Linked DNA regions of Homo sapiens. The protein of the gene in region 2 interacts with the protein of the main gene of each other region in a biochemical or structural test. Each region holds a gene or a part of one and is shown on either strand. Other genes may lie near its edges. The genes, in order: DGKZ, RGS12 and GNAI3.

Region 1 (3,649 bases), on a different chromosome or scaffold from region 2:
GGCCCGCACCGCCCACACCCCAGCATCTCGCGGGTTAACAGCTTGCCTGTCTCTCCGCCCCCTTCCCCAGCTTGCTGACATTTTACAGAGAGAGGCGGGGGCGGTTGTGAAAGGGGGCAAGCTGGTTCTTGCTCCCCAACCCACACGGACACCCCACTGACACAGCCTGCCACCACCCACCCACCTCTGGAAGGCATCCCCTTGGGGGAGACCTTCCTTCCATCCTGAGGGCCCTGAAAGGGTGAGGGACAGGCTGCCAAAACCATCCCTGGTAGACCCAGGGAGCTCTAGGGGGCTGGTCTCCCTCAAGGGGTCTTTTGTAGGACACAGGATCTCCCTCTGTCACCCAGGCTGGAGTGCAGTGGCACAATCATAGCTCACTGTAATTTCAAACCCCTAGGCTCAAGCAATCCTTCCACCTCAGCCTCCCGAGTAGCTAGGACTATAGGTGGGGGCCCCCATACCGGGCTCATTTTTTCTTTCTTTCTTTCTTTTGTAGAGACGAGGTCCTGCTATGTTGCCCAGGTTGGTCTCGAACTCCTGGCCTTAAGTGATCCTCCCACCTTGGCCTCCTGAGTTGCTGAGATTACAGGCCTGAGCCACTGTGCCCAGCCTCTGGAGTCTTTTTAAGAAATGATTTTGAAATCTTTCTAAACACATTAAATATCTTGGCGTTAGAAAAGTGTGCAGAATAAGGTGACACCTACTGCCTAGCTTGGTTGGAGCTTAGCATTAGGCCATATTTGCTTTAGATAGAGATGGAGGCCCCTGTGTCTTACTCCCTGGAGGAAACCACAATTCTGATTTTGGTGTGTGTGATGTTCTTGTGCCTGTTTTTAAAATTGTCCTACATAGGTATTCATGCCTAGCAACATACAGTGCTGTTTCGTATGATTTTACTCTGGTTTAAATGGTATACCAGGCATATTCTGCATTTAGGTTTTTCCCTCAATATTGTTTTGGAGATTTAACCATCCTAAACATGAATTCTCACGGATCCATTTTAACCTCCACGTCCGATTCCATTGTGTAACAGCAGCTTATTTGCCCAGGCTCTGTTGACGGACACTTGGGTGGTGTGCAGTTTTTCGCTATTGCAAGCGATCCCTCTGTGTTCTCTCCACCAGTGCTTGCTCACAGGGTCTGTGTATTTTCAGCTTAGACAGATGTTGCCAAATTGTGCTCCGAAGTAGTTGTCCTAATTTTTAGGCCTCTGTGTTTATTTTTTTATTTTATTTTATTTTTTTGAGACAGAGTCTCACTCTCGCCCAGGCTAGAGTGCAGTGGTGCGATCTCGGCTCACTGCCAGCTCTGCCTCCCGGGTTCAGGCCATTCTCCTGCCTCAGCCTCCCAAGTAGCTGGGACTACAGGCGCCCGCCACCACGCCCGGCTAATTTTTTGTATTTTTAGTAGAGACGGGGTTTCGCCATGTTAGCCAGGATGGTCTCGATCTCCCGACCTCGTGATCCGCCCGCCTCAGCCTCCCAAAGTGCTGGGATTACAGGCATGAGCCACCGCGCCCGGCTATTTTCTTTCTTAAAACTTTCAGTAAACTGGGGAATTGTTTCCCAGGAACAAACACTTTCTCCTTCAAGCCTGCAACACTCCCTTGAGAGAGACGAGGGTGGGCATTAGCCCTATTTATCAGATCAGGAAACTGAGGCTGAGGCAGGTTAAAAGGCTTAGCTTGAGGTCATGTAGCTGGTCAGAGGCAGATCCTCTGGGCCTTTGAAGCTAAACCTACTGTGAAGGCCTTTGTCCCCTGTGTGAGTAGTGTGGAAGCCTGGAGAGTGGGGTGGGGCCCTGGGGGCTGATGGGGGAGGGAGCAACATGGTCAGAAAGTTGAGGGGGGAGGTGTTAAATTTTTTTTTTTTCTTTTTTTGAGATGGAGTTTTGCTCTTGTTGCCCAGGTTGGAGCGCAATGGCGCGGTCTCGGCTCACCGCAACCCCTGCCTCTGAGGTTCAAGCGATTCACCTGCCTCAGCCTCCCAAGTAGCTGGGATTACAGGCATGGGCCACCACACCCGGCTAATTTTGTATTTTTAGTAGAGATGGAGTTTCTCCATGTTGGTCAAGCTGGTCTCGAGCTCCTGACCTCAGGTGATCTGCCCGCCTCAGCCTCCCAAAGTGCTGGGATTACAGGCATGAGCCACCCGCCCGGCCAGGGTGTTAATATTGAATGAGGGGTGAGGGGGAAATGCTTCTCCCAGCAGATGGGGAATGGGAGCCCTCTGCAGACACAGGAGAAGACAAGGATGGGACGGTCACCAGAGAAGAGTGGGGGCCCGCGAGGGGTTTATAACAAAGGGGCCCCTTTGGGAGGCTAAGGGAGATATATTGGCATTCCCATCAGGGATCGGTTTCAGTGTTGCCTCTGAGACACCAGAGCTCAGCCCAGACCAGACTTGTCCACCCAGTGCAGCAGGAAGTTCTCGGGAGCTGGCCCACTCCTGGGGCTCTGTGCCCACCTGAAGCCTGTGCTGTCAGCGGGATCCATGAGGCTGAGTCCAGACCATGCGCTGTTCCCTCCACTCACTCTTCAAACCACACCCAGCACTTCTACACTCTGGGGATGCCATTAGAAGCAATGTGAGGCCCTGGGGCTCACAGCCTGTCCGGGGATGCAGATTTGCACATTAGTGCTGATTGCCCAGGGTCTGAGAGGAAAACCATGAGGGAGAATTCACTGAGTAGAGAGGGGAGTGGTATTCCAGGTAGGGAGACCACCGGATGCCACGTGGTGCCACGTGGAAAAGGGACCCGCGGTGTTTTGTTTGCCAGAAGCATCCAGGGTGGAGCCTGAGGGGTCGAGGGTATGTGCCATGGAACACACTACTGAGTTCAAACCCCAGCACTGCCACATGTTAGCTGGACGACTTCAGGCAAATGACTTAACCGCTTTGTCTCTCAGTTTCCTCATCTGCAATATGAGGATACGGGCCATGGGGATAAGAATACCAACTATTCTTAGGAGGATTCGTAGCTTAATATTTGTAAAAACACTTAGAGTAGTGTCTGGTGGAGTGAGTTATGTAAGTGTCAAATACAGCATTAAAAATATGAAAGAGCAGAGAGGAGGCTGGGAGGCCTGTTGCCTGCCAGCCCCAGGTCTTTGCATTTTGCTCAGCTGACAGTAGAGTCAGTAAAAGGTGATTGGGTGCTTTAGGATGAATTCTGATGGCAGCGGGAGTCTGGCTTGGAGGGAGGCACTAAAGGAATGGGTTGGTCATTTGTTGCGCAAACATCTCTTTGAGGCCTAGCAGGGGCTGAGTCAGGGACTCGGATGTGAAAGAAGAGACTGGGGGTATTTCACCAAGGAGCTCAGGCCAGCTTAGGATCCCCGCCTAGCCCCCAAGCCTCTGAGACAGCCCCTCCTCCCCTTTCCTTGCCCACCACCCTCCCCTTGTGACTTCATGTCACCAAACCGACTATCTAGTTTTCATGAGAAAGCCATGGAGAACATGGAGCGGGCGATAGCATCCAGCCCAGAAAGGGGCCTCCAGGTGTCACTCTTGGGGTCCTCTAGAGAGGAGAGGAAGGTGGCCACCCAAACCAAGGCTGTTGCCATCCCCTTGTACCCAACAAAGAGAAGTGGCCTGAGCCAGCTGGAGCCTGTGGTCAGCCGTTGCATGTGGTTACACAAGGTGGA
Region 2 (3,649 bases):
ATCAGGCCAGGCGATTGAGGTTTGGCTGTCAGGTGACTTGCTCACAGTCACAGGGCATGTGAGTGCTGGGACCAAGACAGCCCTGGCGCTCCGTGTGGGATTTGGAGTGGCCTTCATAATGTGGCGTGATACACTATCTAAAAATAAACAGGTAGTAACGTGTTGTGTTTTATGGGTTCCTGCTGTAATCTCTTGAGGTTTAAGTGTTGCTGTTTACTTTGCCAAGTGGGCCTCCCTGTGTAGTTAGGTGAGTCTGATCCCATAGCCTCCCCAGTTAGAGCAGCAGAAGCTTCCAGGGGTCATGAGGCGGCCACAAGATGGGTCCGGACGTCGCCGTGGACAGGTCTGCAGAGTTTCGAAGGTGGCCGTGACCGTCCGCAGCGATCAGGGCCCCACCTGGACGCTGGCCTGTGCTGAGAGAAGGGGCCAGCAGGGATGCAGGAAGTGCCTGGAAGTTAGAAGAAGCAGCAGAGTTGGCACAGGGAGGGAGAGAGCAGAGGAGGCCCCTGGAGGGTGCCATGGTGTCAGGCAGCGAGCTTCACGTGACTCCGGATTCTTAGTGACGGGGACTTCAGGGCTTTACTTTGCACAAACTCAGGTGGAATCAGTCAGGATCCAGCCAGGAGACAGGAAACGCAGCAGTAATTTGAACAGGAAAAATTCAGTATACAGAATCGTTAACAAAGGAAAAGAAGGTTAGCTGCTGAAAGAGAAAAGAAAGGCTAAGGTCATCAGTGTGGAAAGGGGCTGAGTCTAGAAAAGTGGGCGTGGGAGGCTTAGATACCCAGAGTAGGGGCCTTATCTGACAGGACTGTGAGTCCATCGCAGCTGTGAGAGAGTGAAGCAGCTCCAGGTGAGGATTGGTGGCTGTCCCCAGTCCCCAGGAAAAACGATGTGGGACCCTCACATGCCAGTCCACCCCACTCCATCTGGGAGGCAGTGCCTGTGCCCATTGCTGAACATTGAGCCCCTGGGCAGGAGCCATGTGGTCTTCAAGGCCCAGTGCCAGGATCAGAAGCTGGGCACGGCAGGGTGGGTTTGGCGCTGAGAAGAAATGCCTTGGTGTCTGGCACAGTGCCCCGTTAGGCTACCCAGCGTCTGTATGCACCCTTCTTCAGCACCCCCAAGGGCATCTCACTCCCAGCTTCTGCTTTTGAGTCCGCCTTGGCTTGCCTGCACCCCAGGGCAGGGTTTTCTGTGGCTGTGGAGCAGCTCCGGCCTGGACAGCCACGTCAGCTCCTCCCCCCAGTGGACTGCAGGCATGTGGTGTCCAGCGCGCTCTGAGGCCCAGGCCTGGGCAGGGGCCCCTGCTGACGGTGTCCTTGGCTTAGGCACTCGCCCTTAGCCCTAGAACAATCTTCAGCATTCCCTCTACACAGTTATTACTAGTTCTATGAATGTTAAACGTTCCCTTTGAAATTACTGGCACCAGCCTTTCTTAATCTGTATGCAAAATAAGCTGACTATTAGAAGAAATATAATACTGCATCTAGTCACAAGTTGGTCTCTAAGGCCAATAGTTCTGTGTCCTAACTGCCACCAGATTCTCCATTGTTGTCCTTTGCCAACGCTTTTGTCACTGCCGCCTCCATCCTGCTGTCTGCAGGCTCAGCCCGGGTTTCCGCCCTCAGTGGCCACTTGCTCCTGTGAAAGCCTGGGGACCAGCGAGCCAGACCCCTTGTTGCTCGGCATTTCTACGTCTCCTTGGTGAGATGGAAAGCTCTAACCCCCTGCACACCGAGCCACGTGGTGACCTTGTGCCAGCTCATCCTTGTCAGCTTCTCCCTCCTCTGGGGAGGAGCAAGGAAGGGGAGCTGAGTTACTTGTAGACTCGCTGAGGGTCTGAAATTCTTGAAGTGGGTGAGATGATGTTTGGAAGTGGACTGCTTTCCCTTTTGTGTAGTTTGCTCTTTGTCTCTGCCTAATGTCTGTAGCCAGCACAAGCTGGTTCTCATGGAGATAAGCATTCAGGCCTGTGACTAACAAAAGGGGCTGATGTGAAAGAGAACCCAGGATCTCGAAATGCTTCTGTCATCAAAAATGATTGCCTTGTGTTTCATTTAAGGCAAGCGTGTTTAATTCTGTGTCTCTGCAAACTGACTCAAAGTTATATTAATTAATTAAATTAATTAATTAAAATACCTGGTTAAGTAGCAGCACCCAAATTCTTAAAATTTCCATACAATGGATTTTGGAAATTTTAAAAATGAAAATATGTTATTTGTGATATGTAAAGGATTGATTGGTGTAATTTTGAAATGAATGAATACATATTTTTAAATTCCTCAGTTTAATTTCTGGTATGAGAAACATCAGTAGCTGAAACCCACAAAAATAAAGACTCGCTGAGGTGCTCAGTCGTTTGTAGGTACTCCCAGGAGTCCTGAGACCACAGCACTTGAGGACTGCTGCCCGCAGAAGGTTGGATTTGCAGGAGTGAGTTCCTTCTCAACTGTTGCTTACTGAGATAAGACCATTAACAGAGAATGGAGAAATACCTTATGGGTGTACTGGAGTACCCGAGAGCTACATCTGAGTGAGATAGTGGTACCTGCATCACCTGAAGTACATCTGAAAATCGCGCTCATAAAAAAGGCAAAATACAGAAGCCTCAAGCCCGTGAGCAGCGCAGTCTGCTGTCCAGGGTGGCGCGTGCCCCTCGGTGGGAGGACAAGCCAGGGGCGAGCGGGAGGACGAGCAAGCACCAGGCTGGGGGGCCTCTCCCGGGAGGGGTGCCGTGGCGCCTCGCTCGTGTTGGTGCAGTTTTATTTCTTGCGGTGCAGTGTGTTGGTGGGTGCTCATCATCTCATTCTCCACCATTTGTTCATGACGACATACCCAAAGGTACAATCACAGACACAATGCGAACAGCACTGTAAGAGTCAGAGCCTTAGATGCTGCTGCTGCCTCTGCCCCGCTCCGCGCGGGGAGCTGCAGTTCAGAGTTCGCTTCCTTTCATGGACTTACTCTGTTTGCACAGGCTCTTGGATATTCTCTTCCTTTTCCTTCCCTTTATTGAAAATACATGTGACATACTGCTGTGAGTTACTTTTTTCTAAAACAAATTTCTCATGTACATAGTTATATATCAATTTTAAAAACTCTTCTTCATTGTAGTGGCCACGTGGTATTATGTCATATGCCTGTGCCATTTCTTACTGAATCAGTCCCCAGTTGATGGCAACCTTAGACTGTTTCTATATTTAATAATAAGCTGGATTGCAGTAAAAATTCTTAAAGTTCTATCTTTGTATATATGTGAGTTTTCTTTTGGGTAGGTTCCTAGATGTGGAATTGCTGTTTTTAAAAGTGTATGTGCATTTTAAAGTTTGCCAAATTGCTCACCAAAGAGGTTTTCTAGTTTATATTTTTGTCAGTAGTGTGTGTGTGTGTGTGTGTGTGAGAGAGAGAGAGAGAGAGAGAGAGAGAGAGAGAGAATGCCCCCTTTTTTATTGAAGGAGAATTTGTGTTATTTTGATGTACAGAAAACTCAACAGTGTTCATTTCACCCAGTTTATTGGCAGGTTCTGTGGCCTTTGCCTTTTCCAGCTTGGCAACGTGAGCCACAGATTTTGGTCCCAGAGCTAGCTTTCCCAGCGATGGCAGATCTTGTCATATCTGTTGTCGTGGGTCTTGATAGCTTCCACCA
Region 3 (3,649 bases), on a different chromosome or scaffold from region 2:
CAGCCACAACAGATGTCTCTCCTCCTTCACTTGCTTATAATAAAATGCCATGGAACTAATTTTGTGGTGCCAAGTCTCCCATTTACATTCCAAGAGGGAACTTTTTTCTCCAAATCATACAAATGACCAAGGGCTCTATAATCCTAAACTTAGACAATTTTTATAAAGTATCCTATAAACGTCTAAGAGTGTCTATTACTTAAACATTTCCTTAAGTGGGGACTAAAATTTCTGTAGTGTCACCAAGTTATTCTCTGTTATAGTTTCACAGAGAAAAATTACTTACTATGAAGCAGAATCATTGAGCTGATATTCCCTGGATCTGCTGAAGCAAGCTTGTACCCCACCATCTCGCCATAACCGTTTAATCACTCCTGCTAGTTCTGGAGTCATGACTCCTTCTTCAGCACTGCCAGCTAAAACAAATAATTGCCGGGCATCATCCTGAAGAAAGCAGTTAAGAAAGAGACAGATGACTCTCCATTTCTTTAAGACTTGATGACAGTCTCTTTAAAATATAGACACATTACATGTTATGTTAAAAGAGGTGTTGTTACAGAGACCTTTTCTGACAGGCCAGCATGACAGAATTTATAATTAAGTCTTTCCTTATTCTCATTTCACTACAGTTTTAAGTCCAGAACTGAGCTGAGGAATGATTTTACTTCCCCACCACTCCTCCACACACCACCATCCCCAGAAAAGATCATTTCTGGCCAGCCCACAAATCTCCATCCAGATTGCTAATAATTTTTGAGAGAAAAAAACTGGTTTATGAGACAGGATTATGTAAAACATTCCCGTTCTATTAAAGGAAGCCTACACTAAAAATAGAAATAAAAAGACTAGCACATAAGAGGTAAAGTCTAAACACCTCAAAGGGAGTAAAACATTAATCAAGTTTAAGAAAAAAGTATTCTCTTCTTTGCCTTCAGCCCAGACAGTAGAACAAGAAGAGGAGATGGAGGCACTTAAGGTCTAGAAGCCTAATGGGGGAAATAAATCCCTCAGGGAAAGATTCAAACAGTCCCTAGATTTCCCTAAAGGAATAAGGAATAATAATAATGTTCTGAGAGAGGGAAAGGAAGGGAGCAGGAGGAAAAGAAAGTAACCATAACTTCATGAGTCATAGCCATGGTTTTCTTTATTTCTTTTCTTTTTTTTTTTTTTTTTTTTTGAGACGGAGTTTCGCTCTTGTCACTCAGGCTGGAGTGCAATGATGTGATCTCGGCTCCTTGTAACCTCCGCCTCCTGGGTTCTAGCGATTCTCCTGCCTCAGCCTCCCAAGTAGCTGGGATTACAGGCATCTGCCACCATGCCCAGCTAATTTTTCTATTTTTAGTAGAGAGGGGTTTCGCCATGTTGGCCAGGCTGGTCTCGAACACCTGACCTCAGGTGATCCACTCGCCTCAGCCTCCCAAAGTGCTGGGATTACAGGCGTGAGCCACTGGGCCCAGACATAGCCATAGTTTTCTAGGTGGTTATAGTTTTTAAACATAAAATATGTGAGGGAGAGGACAGAAATGGATTATGAGATTTTTATTGTTTTCCTTTATTCTATCCATCCCTACTTGTTGGTTTAAAATTAAACACAGGTCTCACGGGATGATTTTCCCATCCACATCTAATATTTATCTACCTTGAGAGATTCCAAATAACTATAAAAATAAAAAATTTAAAAAGTATATAACGTGTAAAGAAAAAGTAAAGGAGAAAGGGGAGCAATCATTTGTATCTTAAGTAGTCATCAAGACAAATAAACTAACAAGCAAAAGTCATTTCAGACCACAGGTGAACTCACAACCTAAAACTCCAAAGACTTGTGAATTACCAGAACTTGTGCATCCACCTTAGCAAAACAAAACCATCCATGGTGCACTCAAATTATTTTTGCCAAACTCTGGGTCTCCAGCTCTAATGGTTTTTACCTAGTAATATTTCCTCCTTTATGATCCTTTCCTGTATTCTTTCTAGTAATATTTAGGCTCAACCCACTCTCATTTAGCTTCTGAGATCAGGCGCATTCAGGGTGGCATGGCGGTAGACTAGGCTCAACTCTAAGACACCTTAGCTGGTCGGGCATGGTGGCTCACACTTGTAATCCCAGCATTTTGGGAGGCCGAGGCGGGTGGATCACAAGGTCAAGAGATTGAGACCATCCTGGCCAACATGGTGAAACCCCATCTCCACTAAAAATACAAAAATTAGCTGGGCATGGTGGCGTGTGCCTGTAGTCCCAGCTACTCGGGAGTTTGAGGCAGGAGAATTGCTTGAACCCAGGAGGCGGAGGTTGCAGTGAGCTGAGATGGTGCCATTGCACTCTAGCCTGGGCGACAGAGCAAAACTCCATCTCAAAAAAAAAAAAAAAACAAAAAAAACACCTTAGCTAAGATCTATATGCCCCTCCCTTTCTTTTCAAAGATAAAATTTTAAACAAATGAATGAGAAAAGTTGAAATATTAGACAAATTGGCAAACATACTCAGCAGTGAGCATGTCCTTGTACATATGCAAGGTATGGTGCTTTATCTAACATGTGAAGTCTTCATAATCCCCTGGTTCTGAAATTTGACCTATACCCATGCACGTATTCAAATAACCTTATTAAGCACTACTTTAAAAAAAAAAAAAAACAGAAAAAAACCATGACTCTAATTTTAGAAACTTCAAAAGAGAGGGAATTATTACTACTTTTTTTGCTGTCCTGACTCTTTAAATATTCTTTTAGGAGCAAACACTTTTTTCTTATCACTTAATTTCTTCCACTGACCTGCTCTTGCTTCCCCACAATAAACCCTCTCTAAAGGTCTATAAAGAGGTGCCTCTTGGCTGGGCATGGTGGCTCACGCCTGTAATCCCAATACTTTGGGCAGCCAAGGCAGATGGATCACCTGAAGTCAGGAGTTCCAGACCAACCTGACCAACATGGAGAAACCCCCGTCTCTACTAAAAATACAAAAAAATTAGGCGGGCATGGTGGTGCATGCCTATAATCCCAGCTACTCGGGAGGCTGAGGCAGGAGAATCGCTTGAACCCAGGAGGCAGAGGTTGCGGTGAGCCAAGGTCACACCATTGCACTCCAGCCTGGGCAACAAGAGTGAAACTCTGTCTCAAAAAAAACAAAAAACAACAACAAAAAAAAAAACAGAAGAGGCCCCTCTTTACAATAAACTTCACACCTCCACACTTAAGCAGATGTGAAAAAGGAACCTATTCCACACTCAGCTCTATTTTTTTTCCATTCACACTCTCTAACCAACTATAAAAAACTAGAGTAGAAGCCGGGCACAGTGGCTCACACCTGTAATCCCAGCACTTGGGGAGGCCAAGGCAAGTGGATCACCTGAGGTCAGGAATTCAAGACCAACCTGGCCAACATGACGAAACCCCATCTCTACTAAAAATACAAAAATTAGTCAGCCGTGGTGGCAGGCGCCTGTAATCCCAGCTCCTTGGGAGGCTGAGGTAGGAGAATCACTTGAATCCAGGAGGCAGAGGTTGCAGTGAGCCAAAATCGTACCGTTACACTCCAGCCTGGGTGACAAGAGCAAAACTCCGCCTCAAAAAACAAACAAACAAAAATACTAGAAGACAATAAGAGAGGAGCTATAAACATAAAACCTTACACACAGAAGGAAAAATAAAAAGC

The links.
Region 1: the proteins of RGS12 (region 2) and DGKZ interact in a test that uses a peptide from one of them, tested with the Homo sapiens proteins (one large-scale study listed by IntAct).
Region 3: the proteins of RGS12 (region 2) and GNAI3 form a complex in vitro, tested with the Homo sapiens proteins (one study listed by BioGRID).

What each region holds. Positions count from the first base shown.
Region 1 is NC_000011.10:46,353,882-46,357,530, forward strand, and holds part of DGKZ (diacylglycerol kinase zeta), read left to right. Parts: intron 1-3,649. UniProt on the Homo sapiens protein: Diacylglycerol kinase that converts diacylglycerol/DAG into phosphatidic acid/phosphatidate/PA and regulates the respective levels of these two bioactive lipids.
Region 2 is NC_000004.12:3,320,472-3,324,120, forward strand, and holds part of RGS12 (regulator of G-protein signaling 12), read left to right. Parts: intron 1-3,453; exon of another isoform or gene 3,454-3,649. UniProt on the Homo sapiens protein: Regulates G protein-coupled receptor signaling cascades. Inhibits signal transduction by increasing the GTPase activity of G protein alpha subunits, thereby driving them into their inactive GDP-bound form.
Region 3 is NC_000001.11:109,575,999-109,579,647, reverse strand, and holds part of GNAI3 (guanine nucleotide-binding protein G(i) subunit alpha-3), read right to left. Parts: intron 445-3,649; coding exon 287-444; intron 1-286. UniProt on the Homo sapiens protein: Heterotrimeric guanine nucleotide-binding proteins (G proteins) function as transducers downstream of G protein-coupled receptors (GPCRs) in numerous signaling cascades.